Linked DNA regions of Homo sapiens: region 2 is reported to be linked to region 1. The links are microRNA targets in miRTarBase. Many come from high-throughput screens and were not tested one by one. Region 1 holds a microRNA gene; the other region holds the end of a gene's coding sequence.

The links. Region 1 holds the annotated microRNA hsa-miR-152-5p (AGGUUCUGUGAUACACUCCGACU, at 1,267-1,289, shown strand). A microRNA usually pairs through its seed, bases 2 to 8, with sites in the 3' UTR of a target mRNA and lowers its output. Matches are read on the target gene's strand: a 7mer-m8 pairs with bases 2 to 8, a 7mer-A1 pairs with bases 2 to 7 and ends in A, and an 8mer does both.
Region 2: miRTarBase lists PYGO2 as a target of hsa-miR-152-5p. Seed matches in the 3' UTR shown: 7mer-A1 at 2,311-2,317.

What each region holds. Positions count from the first base shown.
Region 1 is chr17:48,035,499-48,038,498 of GRCh38, reverse strand. MIR152 (microRNA 152) reads left to right here and starts at 1,252; the gene lies at 1,252-1,338. COPZ2 (coat protein complex I subunit zeta 2) reads left to right here and starts at 702. Exons shown (of 9, transcript NM_016429.4): 1 at 702-832; 2 at 1,574-1,648. The coding sequence starts at 722.
Region 2 is chr1:154,955,883-154,959,355 of GRCh38, forward strand. It overlaps PYGO2 (pygopus family PHD finger 2), which reads right to left. Exons shown (of 3, transcript NM_138300.4): 3 at 1,144-3,473. The coding sequence ends at 2,897. It overlaps PBXIP1 (PBX homeobox interacting protein 1), which reads right to left and starts at 217. Exons shown (of 11, transcript NM_020524.4): 1 at 187-217. RefSeq lists an enhancer at 3,403-3,473.

The DNA of each region.
Region 1 (3,000 bases):
GTGAATTTCCCACTTGCCAGTGTACCCTGAAATGAGAGCTTGTCTTAGTTAGACTTAGACCAAAGAAACCAAAACATGCTGCAAAGCCCGATGTCATTGGTGGAGCATTTGTGCTGCTGGGCGTCTGTCTTGCTTCTGATGGTGCCATATCTGTGACTTAGGAGAGCCTGGGGAGGTGTCTCCGGGCCCATGGTTGCCTTCTGCAAGTAGTGAGAGAGGAATGAGAAAGCCTCTTCACAGAGGGGTGTCCCCAGAACTGTCCTCATTTGCTCTTGCTTATAGACCCTGTCCCTGAGATCTAAAGGGTGACCTGACGTATTTGTCCTCATGGTACCTACCAGAGGTCAACAGACAAAAGTGGGCTTTGCTTGTGTTTGCTGCTGGCCCCAGGACAGCCTATAGACACTGGCGCACACCAAAGCCACAGGCCGGAGAGCAGGCAGGAAGCAGGACGAGGGCTGGTCTTGGGGCACCCTGAGGATGCAGAGTTCGGGGATGTAAGGGACTCGGGAAGGAGCCAAGGAGGAGAGAGGGAGAGGAGAAGTGGGGGAAGGAGAGGTGGGGTGAGGGCGGGAGGGGAGATGGGGGAGAACGAGCAAGAGGACGGGGCCCCGAGGAAAGGGAGGCCACGCGCGAGAGGGGGCCGCGGGGCGGCGCGGAGGCGGGGCGGCGGCGGCGGGCAGGCGGCGGGCGGCGCTGTCAGTGCGAGGCGGCGAGCGGAATGCAGCGGCCCGAGGCCTGGCCACGTCCGCACCCGGGGGAGGGGGCCGCGGCGGCCCAGGCCGGGGGCCCGGCGCCGCCTGCTCGAGCCGGGGAGCCCTCGGGGCTGCGGGTACGGAGCGGGCGGGCGCGGGGATCCCGGGCGGCGGGAGCTGGGCAGGGACAGAGCAGGGTTAGGGGGAGCAGCCAACTCAGAACTCGCGCGCCCGGCGGCTGGGAACTTTGTGTCACCCCTGACTGGCCCCAGGACCCGGGAGGAAAAGTTCGTCCCAGCGCCGACCGGAGAGGAGGCCTGTCCTGAGTCCGTCGGCGCGGGGCTGAAGTTCTGGGTCCGTTTGGAGTGGGGGTGGCGGGTGAGTTGCGATTCCGCGGGGAGGGTAAGGAGTGGCCTGTCCGTCCCAGACTCGGCTCCCATCACCGGTGGGTGATGGGCATGCTTCTGGAGTCTACCCGGGCCAGGGCCTGGGGGCGCGCTGATAGCGCAGGTCCAGCCCGGCCAGGGATCAGCTGGAAGAAGGAGGCTCGGCCCGCTGTCCCCCCCGGCCCAGGTTCTGTGATACACTCCGACTCGGGCTCTGGAGCAGTCAGTGCATGACAGAACTTGGGCCCGGAAGGACCTTCTGCACCCAACGGGCACAGCGCCCACTCGGGGCCTGCAGTGGAACATCTGCCTGGGAGTGGAGTGGGCACCTGGGTTGGCCCATGTGGCACAGGGCTGGGCAGAACCAGCTGTGGACCTTGAGGACTGGGGTTGCTGGGGCCTGAGGATGTATCCTAGGGCCAGCAGATCCCATAGACACAGGGTGTCCACCTCGAGTCAGGGGCCAAACGGAACTCTCCTCTCCGGTGTCAGTTGCAGGAACCTTCCCTCTACACCATCAAGGCTGTTTTCATCCTAGATAATGACGGGCGCCGGCTGCTGGCCAAGGTAACCTCTGACCCCACCCATGAGGGACACAGTTCCCACTCAGCTGACACTCCTGTCTCAGGAGAAACTCCACTGTGATCTCTGTGACTCAGGGCAGCTCAGCTTAGACCCCTCCAGAGGTCCTTCTCATCCTCCTGCCTTGTCAAGGTGCTGCTCCCTGAAATGAGGGGTCTCCTCTATTTCTACTCATGTTCCCTGAAATGTTTCCTTATCATCCTGCTACTGGCCAGTTGGACCTGGGCATGGGAAGGTTCTGCCTAATGGGTCAGTGGAGTGTTGAGCCTGGGACCCAGGAGTCTTAGTCCCCAAACCCCCACACAAGTTCTTTTGTTCTTTGGGGTTTGTCTCTAAACCTCCACTTTTGTTCTACAGCTTGGTAAACACTAACGATTTAGTCTAAGGAGTCTAAGGATTTAGAACCAGATGGGATTTTAGAAACTGTATAATCCAACTCTTTAATTTCGTAGATGAAGAAAATGAGGGGTAGAGAAGCTAAGTGAGTTGCCTGAGGTCACAAGTATTAATATCCTAACAGATCCAAACTCAAATTTTATTTATTTACTTATTTAATTTTTTCACTTCTCCCATTTCACAGGTTTCACAGGCAAACTCGGGTTTTTTGACATGAAGCTCAAGGTGGTTTTCACTGTACCCCCATTCAATTAGCTGTTATCTATCCTAGCAAACATGGCCTGAGCGAACCAAACTAAAATAATCCAAAAATAAATTTCTGCTGTCAACACAATTAATTGTAGGGGAGCTATAGCATCTGCATTAGCTATGAAATGCATTATAAGGCCAGGTGTGATGGCTCATGCCTGTAATCCCAGCACTTTGGGAGGCCAAGGCGGGCAGATCACTTGAGGTCAGGAGTTCGAAACCAGCCTGGACAACATGGTGAAACCCTGTCTCTACTAAAAATACAAAGAATTAGCCAGGCATGGTGGTGGGCGCCTGTAATCCCAGCTACTCGAGAGGCTGAGGCAGGAGAATTGCTTGAACCTGGGAGGCAGAGGTTGCAGTGAGCCGAGATCACACCATTGCACTCCAGCCTGGGCAACAAGAGCGAAACTCTGTCTCAAAAAAAAAAAAAAAAAGAAAAGAAAAAGAAAAGAAATGTGTTGTAAGGCCAGGCGCAGTGGCTGATGCCTGTAATCCCAGTACTTTGGGAGGCCGAGGCGGGTGGACTGCTTGAGCCCAGGAGTGCCAGACCAGCCTGGGCAACATGGCACACCCCATCTCTACAAAAAACAAAACAAAACAAAAACAAAAAACAAAAAAACGAAAATTAGCCGGGCGTGGTGGTGTGTGCCTGTAGTCCCACCTACTCGGGAGGCTGAAGTGGGAGGATT
Region 2 (3,473 bases), not on the chromosome of region 1:
TCTAGGGCCACTTGCCTGGGGTACCCAGAGCAAGTTCCTGTTGTGTTAGCGTCGGCACCTGGCCTTCCTCCCCCAGCCCAGAAATGAAAAGCAGCTCATTCCTTCTAGATTAGTTCCGCCTTCCCTTTTCCTTATTCCACCCCCTTCAAAGCGAATCTGTGGACCCCTTCCCAGCTAAGGCATTACCTGAACCAGCTCTTGCTTCGGTCTTCAGCTTAACTTGTTGCAGGCTTCCCTTTGTTTGCAGCCCGAGAAGAAAATCATGTGACCAGAAACTGACCAATGAAAAGTCAACTTCCCCAAGGGGGCGGAAACTTTTGGCCAATAAGAGCAGGAATTGAGAGCCAGGGGAGGGGAAGGGAGGTCTAGCGACACGGCCCTAAACCTGGGCTTACCTCCTGGTGGGCGACCGGGGTCCCAGCTAACCGAATCCTGAGTTTCCTGCCCTTCTTTCCCAGTGTCTAAACAGTTTCTAGAGGGAACCCCCACAAACTGAGAGAAAAGCAGACGGTGCCGTCTTCTGAGATGACGAAGACAAGGGGCCAGGTTGGCCCCAGGATAGACAGAGACAGCTGTGAGATGGGGGAAGGGAGAGGGACAGGTCGCAAATCCAGGGTGTGGAAATAGCCCTCCTGCCATTCTCCCCAATCTGCTCCAAAACAGACTGCTTAAAAGATGCCATTGCTACTTTAAAAAACGGTTGGGGGACGGGAACGATCTGAAAAACATCCCAAAATGAAATTTGCTAGGACAGAAGCAGCCCCTCCCCTCACCCTTAGAGCGACACTTGCTCCCTAACCCAAACAACTGGGAGGTGGGTGGGGTGCTAAACCCAGAAGAGCTCAAGCACTTGTCTTCCAGAGGCTGTGGTGCCAAATCCGCCTGGCTCCAGGCCTGGCCCAGGAATATGCTCAAAAAGGAAACTCAGTTTCTCACAGTGGAGACACAGGGGGATGGGCGGGGAAACACAGGCCTCCCTTGGCTCAGCAGCTTATACCAGGGTCAGCTCAGGGGCCAAATCTGCCATTCCCACTCCCAGGGACCCTGGGGAGCATACATATCCTCAACCCCTAAGCACCCTACCCAGCAGTGACAGCGGCTCATTCCAGCCTTTTCACACAGCAACAGCAAGGAGTCCTTGTCTGGGATTTTAAAATCATTTTATTAATCCAACAGTACAAAAGACCCCCACCACCACCGCATTCTGCCATCACTTTGTTCCAAAAAGTAGTGGAGTGAGAGAGCGAGAGGGAGCAGATCCAGCAAAAACACTCCCCCAGGGGCCATTTTACAAAATGCGGAGCAGGGGAAGACAACACAAAAACAGCAACAGATAAATGGGGCAAACAGAACAACAAACACAAGAGTTGAGCAGCGGGGTGGGGGTGGGGGGTTGCCATCTACGCCGTTTTAGTGTGAGGGACACTGGGAACGATGCCCAGAGGCTGCTCTCCTCCCAGCCTCAAAGGTTGTCAGCTCCACCAGAGCAGGGTCTTCTCTCCTCATGCCAGGAACTGAGAGAAGTGGGGGTAGGGGACCACTAGGTCTTTGCCACTGTATCTTGAGCTGGGGGACTCCTAACTTCTCCGAGGGCCACACCCCATGCCTGCCTTCCCCACCCCATGGAGGAATGTGTGCATGAACAGAAAAGGAGAACGAGCAGCGCTAAGGTCCTCATCAGGCCCCAGGCCCATCTCTGGCAGGCAGTGCTTAAAAAATAAAAAAAGACAAATAAAGCCCAGTGCAGGCCTTTGGCTGAGAGGAATGAGAATTGCTAATTAATCACCAGGCCCAAGAGGATATGAAAGAATAGCAAAGAGAAGCAACAAACTCCAGGCTCTTCTACCTTTGAGTACCATGGCAATGAGGATCCCGCCGCATCCCCTACCCACAGGCTGTGACAGGGCCTCACTTGGATCCTTTTATCATGGAGGAAATGAGGTATAGGGCTCTGCGCCTTTTCAAGCTTTCCTTCAATCAAGCCAGGAAGGCAGGGGAATAAGGGCGCCGAAAGTTGAAGAACACACGGAGTATAATGTGCAACAGATGGGCTGGGGGAGGAGGGTACCACCAAAGTCCAGACTTTCAGGACAGCCCAAACTTCAAATATTCTGGTCTGTCAGATAACATATCCCAATTTTTGGCAAAAATATGGTCATTAGGAGAAAAGCACGAGAGAGGCTGAGAAAGGACCAGTGACTTTGGTATGAAGAAGATACGTCCTGACAGCATCTCTCACCTACTGTCTTGAAGCCCCAAATCACCAAGAAACTGCCATAACCAGGAACTCTCCTGCTTCCTCAGGCTATTTGGTTCTCTGAGGGGGAAGGAGTTGGGTAAGTCTTGGAGGAAGCAAAGGAGTGGGTAGAAAAAGGGGAAAATCCCCATTTATTCCCTAAAGCTGTCTCCCAGAGCCCATAAAAGGGCTATTGCAGGGATGGCAAGACCCCAATTCCTCTGGCCAGAAACCTTTAACACTTGACTCCAAAAACTAAGGCTGGAGCTGTGGGGTTCAGTAGGGGTGTTAGGCACAGGTGTTAGGGGCATCCATCATCAGCAGAGGGAACACCCCTGCCCTCCGGATCTTCCTCCAGCCCCTTTTCTCTTGCAGCCACACTCCTGGGCCTCCAGAAATAGCCACAAAATGGCTCTGCTCAGCAGGGCTTTGGTTTCCTGGATCTCTGTAGATCTCAACATGTAAGTTTCCCAAAACAGTGAGCAATCCAGGCTCTTCTGCCTGCCCACCTCAATTCCTTTTCTGCTCCCAGGAGCCACTGTTTCTGCCCCATGGGGATGGAAAGCCAGTGGAAACAAGGACCAAGAGCCAAACATCAAAAAAATCACCCTGGAAGAGCAGGGAGAGACATGTGCACTTCCCTGGGCCACTTCACCAGCGTCACCCATCGTTAGCAGCCACCAGCTGCCCCATGCCCTCACGGATGTAGACAGACTGGATCTCCTTGGTCTTGAGGCAGAGATCGCAGGCCCAGACGGCAGAAGCTTCAGTGGTCAGCAGCCCATAGGCGCTCTCAGTCATGCCTGTGCACTCACGGTGGAACCATTTCTGGCAGGAGGCCTCACACAGAATGGCATCCTGGTCATCGTTCACCTCACTCCGACAGGCACCACATGGGTACACCAAGCCTGGGGGAGGCTGGGGCCCGGAGCCCCCACCTGCCTTGCCAGGGGGTGCCAAGCTGTTGGCATCTGGAGTGCCCCCACCCCGCCCACTGCTGTTCGGGGGGAAACTGGGCTGGTTCCCATTAACAGCAGCAGCCGGGGAGCCTGAGTGGGGCTCCTGGGGAAAAGCAGTAGAAGCAGGTGGATTCAAGGGCTTCCCCCCATCCTCACCACCAGGGCCAGGAAAGCCAGGGTCCGGACCAGGAAAGGGACTTGTGTTAGGCGGCAGGCTGGGGAGCCCCTGACCAGGTCTCTGGAGAGGAGAAGGGCCAAAAGGAGCCCCTGGCTGAGCA